Linked DNA regions of Homo sapiens. The protein of the gene in region 3 purifies or fractionates together with the protein of the main gene of each other region. This does not show direct contact. Each region holds a gene or a part of one and is shown on either strand. Other genes may lie near its edges.

Evidence for each region.
Region 1: the proteins of CCDC82 (region 3) and ALB purify together in Homo sapiens (affinity purification with mass spectrometry; 2 studies listed by BioGRID and IntAct, with this or other methods). This does not show direct contact.
Region 2: the proteins of CCDC82 (region 3) and TOMM34 purify together in Homo sapiens (affinity purification with mass spectrometry; 2 studies listed by BioGRID and IntAct, with this or other methods). This does not show direct contact.

What each region holds. Positions count from the first base shown.
Region 1 is NC_000004.12:73,407,132-73,410,887, reverse strand, and holds part of ALB (albumin preproprotein), read right to left. Parts: intron 2,295-3,756; coding exon 2,083-2,294; intron 1,534-2,082; coding exon 1,401-1,533; intron 577-1,400; coding exon 479-576; intron 1-478. UniProt on the Homo sapiens protein: Binds water, Ca(2+), Na(+), K(+), fatty acids, hormones, bilirubin and drugs. Its main function is the regulation of the colloidal osmotic pressure of blood. Major zinc transporter in plasma, typically binds about 80% of all plasma zinc.
Region 2 is NC_000020.11:44,946,650-44,950,405, reverse strand, and holds part of TOMM34 (mitochondrial import receptor subunit TOM34), read left to right. Parts: intron 1-1,528; coding exon 1,529-1,676; intron 1,677-3,756. UniProt on the Homo sapiens protein: Plays a role in the import of cytosolically synthesized preproteins into mitochondria. Binds the mature portion of precursor proteins. Interacts with cellular components, and possesses weak ATPase activity.
Region 3 is NC_000011.10:96,383,290-96,387,045, forward strand, and holds part of CCDC82 (coiled-coil domain-containing protein 82), read right to left. Parts: exon of another isoform or gene 3,005-3,756; 5' UTR 2,965-3,004; exon of another isoform or gene 2,648-2,964; intron 1,473-2,647; 5' UTR 1,459-1,472; coding exon 673-1,458; intron 185-672; coding exon 1-184.

The DNA.
Region 1 (3,756 bases), on a different chromosome or scaffold from region 3:
TAGATCATTGGGGGGAAGATAAAATTAAATAAAGGGATTATATATGTTGTATACTTATATCAAAATATCTCATATACCCCGTAAATATGTATACCTACTCTGTATCCACAAAAATTAAAAATAACTTTAAAAAATTAAATAAAGAACCATGCCTACAGCTCTATAAAAATAATGAACCATTAGAATAAGAGTCCAAGATTTTATAAATAAATAGAACTTAAATATCTGTCCCTTTTTTTAGGACAAAAAGGACAGCGTCCTCTAAATTATTCAACTATTTAGAAAAGAAAAGATTAAAAATAATGTCAAATTGTCATTGATATTCTGATTTTTACCTCTATTAGAGTTCTACCTGTTAGACAACCAAAGAAATGTATTTGACAGCACTTTGCAAAATACATAAAAATGTACAATTTGTCACTGAAGCATTATCATTTACATCGTTATAAAGATGCCAACTATGTTTAAAAGTATTTACCATGCTTTGAAAGCTCTTTCTCCAAATTTTTGGAGACTGGCACACTTGAGTCTCTGTTTGGCAGACGAAGCCTTCCCTTCATCCCGAAGTTCATCGAGCTACAAAAAGGAATAATTTGATGAAAATTAGAAGAAAAATTCTACATGAAACACCCCTCCATAAGCTCAGATGAGACTGTGCCAAATTAAATTTTGAAGGCATAATTTATGCCTAAATTCCCAAGTACTCCCTTTAGCGAATAATGATTTTGCTCTCTAAGAAAAGGAAAGATCATTCGATCATTCTGGTCACAGCGGAATTCCCTATGTAGTTAGAAACCAACTGGAAACATTGCCAGGAAAAAGAGCCTTAAAAGTGGGAGAAAAGTCAGAGAAAGAGTACGCTAATATCCCAGGGGCTGCAATTTTGCTAATTTTTAAATTTTGTGTATAATTCATTTCAGTCTCTCCTCCACCAACATCAGTAAACTCCTCAGAAAAGAAAATAAAGCATTCCATAATATATATTTATGGAATGAATGCATGAACTCAGGCATCTAGATGCAGTAAAATTCTCTACTTTGAATTCCCTCCCTACTAAAAATTATCATGAAAAGATAAACAAGAACTGTGGCCCCTTGCTGTGCAATTTGACAAACAAGTTTCAGTATTTCACTATAGTGATCACCACCATAAAAAGTGGTGAAATCTTTAAACACATGCACAGTGATTACCTCTGACAGATCATCATTGGCAAATCTTAAAAGAAGAAACGAGAGTGTAGGCCTTCAAAGATGAAAGATTTTCAAGACAGATAAAAGGAAGGCTTTTTTGACCATGTCGGAAAGTTTGTATCAGACACTCAGGTTCCCTAAATCTAGCCACAAAATGGACAAAATCAGGTTGGATAATGAACTCTTTTTTTCTATTCTTTTGCATAATACCTTTGGCAACAGGCAGGCAGCTTTATCAGCAGCTTGGCAACATTCTGTAAAAGCAGCTTTATACCTTTTAGCAAAGAAAAGGAGTTCCGGGGCATAAAAGTAAGGATGTCTTCTGGCAATTTCATATAAGTATCTAAATTTTGAAAAAGAAAAACAGTCACTTTTCTATAGCAGACAATATTACAGAAATAATTGTAATCGACATTCTCCCCAGAACCTCCAAATTCCAAAGATATCTAATTAACCAATTAAGCTCAATTTGCACATGATGGTCTTGTCTCTGTCATTCTTTAAGTATGTGGAAAAAAGGGTTAAGTGTGTGTGTGTGTGTGTGTGTGTGCATAAATGGTTAAATTTTGGCAATATAATGTTGCTGACTAAAACGAAATCAATTATAACAACCATATATACATATCTTCGTAATACATTAAATAATTTGTCTATCTTAAATTTTTCAGAAAGATTGTATCCTGTTTCAATAAACTTCAAAATATCTTTGATCATATTTTTTGCTGTGTAGAATTTTGTGGTATCAAATACTACTTCTTTAAAAAATCATCATAACAAAACTTCCAAGTCTTAATGTTGAAAATATTTTTGTTATGGTAATTTTTATAGAGTGTTGGCCTATGGAGTTACTCCATGCTTTTTAATTTTGAACTATAAACATCTGATTACTTACTTTTTCAAAAATGTCTCTTCATTGTCATGAAAAGCAGTGCACATCACATCAACCTCTGGTCTCACCAATCGGGGGAGGTTTGGGTTGTCATCTTTGTGTTGCAAGAAGCATTCATTTCTCTCAGGTTCTTGTTTTGCACAGCAGTCAGCCATTTCACCATAGGTTTCACGAAGAGTTGCAACTGTGCATAATTTGTCTCCAAAAAGGGTATGCTAAATGGAAGAAAGCAGGTTTCAGTTGCTGGACAGTACCTTTTTTCTTTATAGCCAAAGAACAGTACAAAGGATTTAATATACTGGTTAAGCTTGGTCAGGAAATCATTTAAAAATCCGCTTCCCCTCCCAATCGAGGTTTACAGTTTCTGATGATTTAACCATCTCTATATAATTTTCATAAGAATTAACTGTCACACTATAACTCATGGTGAATAAAACAGGACAAAAAGACAGTCAATAGCTTTAAGGAAAGTTATATGACTCCTATTTTGAAACTTAAAACTAAAGGGTAAGAGCAATCATTATAACAGAAATCAAGAGAAAATAAGCTTCTAAGCAGCAGGTGAATTCACCTAGGGGAGAAAAACATTCAGAGAGTTTCTCATTTCATTTGCCCCCTTTTTAGAGGGCCATGTTTTAGTATATGCCATTGAAAACTGAGGAGTAACACAATCCATCATATATTAAGTGACTATTAAGATATAGACATTTTTCTTCCAGAAATGTTACCTAAAATCACTTTCCAATAAATGAGTCCTTTCCTTATCTCTAATTTTTATTATGAAAGTAACTGTAACCCCAGGGAAAATATACTACTCTAGACAGAATTTATTAATTTTTATGTATTTTTAAGATTTCATATGTAGAGCCATAGTATTGTGTAAAGTTAAAGTCCTGACTCTGCTGTGAGGGAGAGGTACATAATAAAAAGGGGAAAGGCTCCAGTGATAAAAACTGGCCTTGCCCACAAGAGGTATATATAGATTGAGTGGTGAGAGAAAGATAAACCTGTCCTTGTTTTGAAGATTGATCTGGAAATACTAAAAGTTTAAAGTTCTTCAACATGACTAAGTACTCTGCTTTTTTATTGTATGTAGAAATACAAAGATATCTAAAATGAGGAATATATAGCTGTACTATTATTCCACCCAGGTAACAAAATTAGCATAGAAATCAGTGGGTGTTTTCTGATGATAAAAACCATGATATCATCTCTAAGAGATAGTAGCTCTCCTGTGTTCATTGCAACACTATTCATGATAGTCAAGATGTAGAAAACCAACCTAAATGTCTATCAATCAACAAATTAATGGATAAAGAAAATGTGGTACACACATGCACTGGAATATTATTCAGCCTTGAAAAGAAGGAAATTCTGCAATAGGCAACAACATGGTTGGACTTTGAATGCACTATGCTAAGGGAAATAAGTCAGTCATAAAAAGATAAACAGTACATAATACCACTTATATAAGGTAGCTAAAGTAGTCAAACTCATAGAATCAAAGAGTATAATGCTGGTTGCCAGTGGCTGGGGGAGGACGAAACGAGGGGTTACTAATCAATGGGCACAAAGTTTTAATACAGCAAGATGAGTAAGCTATACAACAGTGTACCCGTAGTTAACAATAATGGATTGTACACTTAAAAATATAACAGGGTAGATCTCATGTTAAGG
Region 2 (3,756 bases), on a different chromosome or scaffold from region 3:
ATGTGCTTTAGAGTCTTAGTGTTTGAGGACTTCAGGATAGAAACTGACTTAAGTGCATGAGGGAGTCGGGGAAAGACTCAGAAGGGGTGGCAATGGAGGTGGAGCCTTGAGCTGGACCTTGAAGAAGGTCATCAGGTGGGAAGGAAGGAGAATCCTTGGCAGAGACAGTGGAGAGAGTTGGAGAATGAAAGTGCATGGGGGGAACAGTAGGAATAAGGATGACTGCAGAGTGGTGTGTTGCAGGGTGCCAGTGAAGCTGAAGCCCTACTTCAAGAGAAACCTGTGTGCATGTGCACAGGGAGATGTACCCACAAATGTTCGTAGAAGACTGTAATAGCAAAAAACAACTGGAGATAACCCAGATCTCCATAAATGGGAGAATGGACAATTCAGCTTTGGTATTGCAGCAATGAAAATGAAGGAGCTGCAGGTCTGTGCATCAACACAGATGAATCTCAGAAATATAACATTAAGGGGAAAAAGAAAAACCAAGTCATAAAAGAATACACAGACTTATTCTTCTGTATGAAGTTCAAAAACAAAGTAAACAGCAAATGATCTGTGGGTACTGTTGTATATAGTTATACTGTTTAAAAAGGTGGGGAAGAAGCACAGAATTGGGGATAATAGTTTCCTCCAGCAGTGGATTGAATTGAGGAAGGTCCCCCAGGACTTCAAAGGTCCTAGTTATGTTCTTTTTCTTAAACCAGGCAATGAATTCAGGGTGTAAACCTATAATCTTACCCTGGTCATAAATATTTAGTATTTTATAAAGATAGTTTTAAAAATTTTTGAAAAGCAGATGATATGGAGCTGAGGCTGGAATAATTAATTGGGGCCAAGCAGTGAAGGGCCTGAACACCAAGTTGAGCAGCTTGGATTTCACCATGTTCCCTCTGCTTCCTCTCCTTGAAGGCTGGAGCAGAGCTGCATGTGTTAGATGAGGGAGGATACTCACAGGCTCAGCCCAAACCAGAAATGAGGAATAGCAGGCTCTTCTCCCCTTTTCTCATAGCCCAGAAGCTATACCTTTTCTTTACCAGATATTTGTTTATTAGTATTTATTTACTTATTGTCCTGCTTTAAGTTTATAGTGTGTTCCGTACTTTCTTACATACTCTCAGATTTGACCCTGAAAATAGCCATCTGTGGAATTAGTATTGCCCTATTTTATTGGTGAGGAAATTGAGGTCCAAAAGTTAGGTAGGTCACACAAGATCTTCCAGCTACCAAGAGGCAGTGCCAAGGCTAGAACCTGGGTTGCTTTTTATCATTTATATATTTTTATGTGCATGCAAAAATGTTTTTATATCAGGATTCCCCAACTTCTTGATGAAAAACTGTTGAATTGCCCAGAAGCTATTAATTGGGGGAAGTCATTAATCAGGAAGGATGATTTACAGCAGGGGAGGAAATCTCTGGGAGAGAGGATTGTAGTCAGTTTGGAAGGGACGATGCTGAAGAGACCTCACTGATCTCAGTTGGGTGCTGCTCCATGGTTTTTTTCCTCTTCTGAATTTGTATCTAGTGCCTTCTGCTGGGGATGTGGAGAAAGCCAGAGTTCTGAAGGAAGAAGGCAATGAGCTTGTAAAGAAGGGAAACCATAAGAAAGCTATTGAGAAGTACAGTGAAAGCCTCTTGTGTAGTAACCTGGAATCTGCCACGTACAGCAACAGGTATCTCCTATACAGCTGCTGGCCTGGGGCATTTCAGGACATTTGTTCCATAGTCTTCTCTTGGACTGCAATGGGCCCTTCATCCCTAGCATTTAGTCAAGTATGTTATGGCTGAAAACATGCATCCACGTTGTGAGCTAGCCATGACCAGTGGCATTCATTCTCTCAAAAGGGTAGAAACTGAGGGATGCCAAATGGTAGCCTGGGCTTTGTTGGCCCCTGTCCCCAGAATTTTCATAAGCATGCAATGTAACTAAAAGCAGTGTGCCTGCTCTGCAAACACAACCCTAACACAAGTCTCTTAGCCTGTCCACCCCACCACGCTACGCTGCTCCCTACCCTTCTCCAAGACCCTCCTGTTAGAAATTCTGGCACCATTTCTGTCTGAGAGTACTGGCCCAGAAGCCAAAATGTGAAGTAACCATTGCCTGGCATGAGAGCAGGAAGGATGGGTACAGTCTAGCCTGAAAGGTTAGACTTGTGGGCCTGTAGAAAGTCCTGCACCAGGAGCTGCCGTCAGTGACCACTGACTGAGAACCTGGGAGCCAGGGTGCGGTCCCTTCACTGTGTAGGAGTGATTGTTCTCCAACAATGCTCGTATAGGTGGTCTTTCTGTTTTAGTGTTTAGAAAATTGAGGCTCAGAGAAGGAAGGGTTTTGCTTTAAACTCAGCCAGCCAGTAAATGTTGGCACAAGAATTGGAATCTGACTTCAACAAGATCTTCCTGTTACTTTTACTCTCAGAAGCTTGAAACATTCAGCAAGAGACCATATCAAAACCAAATGCTTAGTATAAAACATTATAAAATGTTAGAAATCTGTTTATCCTTCCCTACCAGCATACACATATCACTCTCTAGTTCAAAAATCTTGGATCTAATATAGACACATTGTTCCTTATTCCAAACTCTTGAGATAAAATGTGTTTTCCAGCCACGGTGGCTCAATGCCTGTAATCCCAACACTTTGGGAGGCTGAGGCTCCGGGAGGATCACTTGAGGTCAGGAGTTTGAGACCAGCCTGGCCAACACGGCAAAACCCCATCTCTACTAAAAATACAAAAAATCAGCTGGGCGCTGTGGCACATGCCTGTGATCTCAGCTACTCAGGAGGCTGAGGCAGGAGAATCACTTGAACCCAGGAGGCAGAGGTTACAGTGAGCCAAGATTGTGCCACTGCACTCCAGCCTGGGTGACAGAGCGAGACTCTGTCACAAAAAAAAAAGAAGTGTTTTCCATTTTAGTGAGGTAATATGGTCTGAATTATGTAACACCCCAGCAGTGTCTGGGGCAGCTTGCAGAAGTTAATTATTAGTATTTCTGCCAGTGAAACTTGAAAATTCCATGTTCACATGGGGTGGAATAGAGAAACTAAATAGCTTCATGTCAGTTCAGATCAGGTTTTGCTGCCCAATGAGTTGGAAAGAGAACTTGTAGTTTTAAAGCTTATATTTTGGAATTTTGCACCTGTGGTTTTATGTGGTTTTATTGCTGATTGGACCAGAGGGGCCACAATTTGCCAGGCTAATTTGAAAAAGAAGCCTGCAGCCTATTTGTTCCATATTTGTGTGGCATCTTCTAACTCCTCTATCTCTGGACCCTCTTTCACATTGCTTACCTTATGCTGCTGGACACCTCCATTAACTCATTTTTCTGGATCATTACCATATTTGGAGCTGTGTTTTGTCTTGTTTAGATACTGTTCTTCATGCAGGTGTCTGTGCCACACTGTTTTAATTGCTTTTGCTTTATAATATCTTATAGGGCTGGTCTTTTCTTCATTCTTCTTAATCAGAGCATTCCTAGTATTTTCCCATGTTTGTTCTTCTAGCTAAAGCTTCGGATCATTTTGGCAAATTCCAAAAAATGTCTTGTTGGACAGCTTTTGGTTGTGATTGCATTGGATTTATAATTTAATCTAGAGGACTAATGACAAAACAACTTTCAGCCATTGTGGCTAACATTTTATCATGTCCTGGAACGTCTTGGACATAGTCTAATGCTCCACCTCATGTACGCCCATCTGAATGACACAATGCCCAGGCTTTGGCTTACTTTGGCTCCCTTTGTGCAGGTGACATC
Region 3 (3,756 bases):
ATTTCAGTTGTGATGTAGTCAATTTTTCTCCTTGTTGGTTTTTATTCTCTTCATCACCCTCCTCATCTTGCACTACAAAGTCATCGATAATATAATCATCTCCATCTTCATCAGATTCATAATTATCCTCTTCTTCCTCCTCATCAACTTCATCACTGCTTGGGCAAGATTCCTTTTCAGAGTCCTAATTAAATTAAAATAAATGCTTCAGTAAATGGTGCTATTAAAACGGTAAGCATCGATATAAAATTAAAACATTAAATCTGACAGCAAAAAAATGATCCATAGTAATTAACTTCATATTTTAAAGTTAAAAATAAATAATTTTGTCATATTAAATGCTGAACTTTTGAAATTATTAAGAAGAATATACCTTGGTTAAGTGATGTAAAATGTTTAAAATGGACATTAGAATTATAAGAAGTTAAAAACAAGAAAGATCATATAAAATAACAAATAGTCTTTCAATTTTAAAAAAGGATGGACTGAGGCTCATGATAAAACAGTATATTACGTACAATAGTGTAATCAAACATGTTCAAGAATACTTGATTAAAAAATAAATTCTAGAATTATTGAGAAATGGAACGGACTCAGCACTTTTTTATAAAAATTAAATACTTTAAGAAAAAAACTGAAAAACAATAACAAATCCAACAAAATATAACACACCTCAAAATCTCTACCACTACTGCGTCTCTGACGAGATCTTTGTTTTGAGAGTTCTTTGAGCTTCTGAAGTTTTTCTCGCTTTTGTGCAGCTAATGTTTTTTCAGGAGTCTTTTGCTCCATTTCCACTGAAGAACCTTCATCTTCAACCACTCTACGGGGACGTTTAACACCTACTTTTCTAACTAGGATATCGCTGTCATCACTCTCATCACTGTCACACATCACAGAGGATAGCCTTTTTCTTTTTCCTCGCTTGATGTCTTCTTCTTCTAAATCATCCTCTATTATTTGTCCAGTTTGTTTGTTGAGATCATTATCCTCTTGACTTAAATGTTTTTCCTGATCATCCTCTATTATTTGTCCAGTTTGTTTGTTGAGATCATTATCCTCTTGACTTAAATGTTTTTCCTGATCTTGTAAGTCAATATTCCTATGTTTGATTTTGTTCGTTTCTTCTTCATATGTTGAACCGTTGCCAGAGTTAATGAGACACTTACTGTCATTTCCTTCACTTTGAATTTTACTTAAGTTGAGCTCTCTTTCACTTCCTGGTGTTTTATTACAATCAGGTCCCTTGTTACTATCAAGCTCTTCATCATTTTCAAAACTTTCATCACTATCAAGCTCTTCATCACTATCAAATTCTTCACTATCAAGCTCTTCATCACTATCAAGTAATTGTGAGATACTACTTCTTTTAGTTCGCCTCCAATCAACTCGAGATTTCTGCTCAGGCACGTGACTCTTAGAATTTCTCCTTGTTTCATGTCTTCTAACATGTATCATTTTCACTTAAGCTTCTATAAAATAAAGTTGTTAGGAATATAACAGTGATAACCAGATTAGAGCAATGAATGCATTTATGGTATAAATTATATTTATTTGGCTTTATTTAATGGTCCACAAACACAAAATCACATGAAATATCTGAGTGAAGATGGTAGAACATTAATTTAACAAATAATTTACTGAATGCCCATGAAATAATTATATGAACATCTACTCTGAATTACGTTGTATGTTGTGCTGCAAGGGATACATAGAAAAATCATGGTGCTGTCCTTCAGAAGATTATTATCTATATGTAGAACTAAAATATCTAAAACATATAATAATTAAGAAAATTTCAAGGTAATATTTAGTATCAAATGAATAACATAAATAACTGCAAGAGAAGTGGAAAGATGCAGGGAGATCAGTAAGGCAAGTGCTTCACTTTATCTTGAACAGATGTGATCTAATAGCATTCTGAAGGATTCATTGTATTTGAACAGAAAGAACGAAAGAAAAAGGGATGTCAGGCAAGTAATATGGTAAGGGCAAACTCTGGCTTTAAGAAAGAAGATGGTATGTTCAGTAAATAAGCATGGCTTAAAATGTATAAAAAAGAGTTTTATGCTGGAAAAAAGGAGAAAAGAATAGAAAACTGAATGGGATTACCAGGATGACTCACCCTGTAGGCAAAGGATTCTGAATAGAGAAATGATATAAAGTATAAAAGATCAATTTACACGAAGAAAGTTATAAAGTAACAAATGACATAAAGAAGACAGCAGTGAAAAATTGAGAGATAATATATCCACTAAGATTGTAGCCTCTTTATACCTTAGTAAAATGGGAGTGGCTTTCCCCTCAAAGTTAAATACACAATATAACCAATAGAAAACTTAACTAACAATCCAATAATGTAGTTAAGTGAATAAAACAAGTAAGTTCCACGGCAAAGCAGAGCATAGTATTGGGAAGGAAAACAAAAGCTGTCAGTTTATCATTTAGAAAAGAATGAATTCCATTAAAATTATCACAAGTATATATTAAAAGAACAATTAGTGACACGTAAGATAACTAGAAAAAATAACATATGTAGTTCTGTGGTTGTTAGGGAATAGAAATATGACAATGTAATGAGACCGACCTCAAACTACATGTTAGAGGTATATATTGAACTGACAGCTATCCCCACCAAAGAAATCACCTTATGAGGCTGATTATTCCAATATTTCCACCACAGCACAGAATATTCCTGGAGTCTTTCTATAAACCACACACTATAAAAAATCTAAAAATATGAAAATAATCACACTTCATTTTTTATCCCAAACAGTGACTTTAACACCCACTTCATTCACTTGTCTCGGTTATAAGGACCTGTTAGCAGCTTGCAGAAATGAAATCCAACTTAAGAAGATGAGAATTAACTACCATTAAAAATCTTCAAAAAATGTGCTGCGAATTCTGAAGGTAATTACAAAAATTCAATGCCAAAAATTTTTTGAGCAATGGGAATCTTACCGGACTATGTTTCCAGCTTTCCAAGAGGATTACTTTTTTCCTATAGATTGTGGAAGAGAGGATACAGCTCATTTAATTGTACAAATTCTGGTATGTTTATACGGCAATAAGACTTTCTGTATAATGGTTAACACCTCATGTAAAATCAGAACGGGGGCTGCCAAAATTATACAGCAGAAATTATAGCGTGTAGGATGAAATATAACTTTTATTTTTTTAAGAGATAGGTCTTGTCCTGTTGTCCAGGCTGGAGTGCAGTGGCATGATCATAGATTACTACAGCCTTGAACTCCTGGGGCTCAAGCGATATGTTTCGATTTTTAAATTTTTTGTAGAGATGGAGGTCTCACTATGTCCTGATCTCCTGACCTCAAGTGATCCTCCCACCTTGGCCTCAGTGCTGGGATTACAGGCATGAGCCATTGCCCAAAGTATAACCTTATGTCAGTAATTGCTATAAAATATAATCAGCATTGTAATAGCAATCTAACAAATTCTGGTCAACAGGGCAGTCTGCTATTTGAAATTACCCTTGGGTTGCATCTTACAAAAGGCTTATATTAAAATCAGCAAAGATGAAAATTGTGTGTAGTCAAAATTACCCTTTAAAAAAATCTCTATATTAAAGTATGGTTTTGTGTACACTATACTGCGTTACAATACGTCCACCCAGTTTCTCCTCCAGGTTTTAAGCAGCTTACTGTTTCTTTGGTTTAGCACCACACGAACTAGGCATCTTACATTTTTAAGCTGTATAGTACAAAAAAGTATTTGTAAACACATAAATTTGCG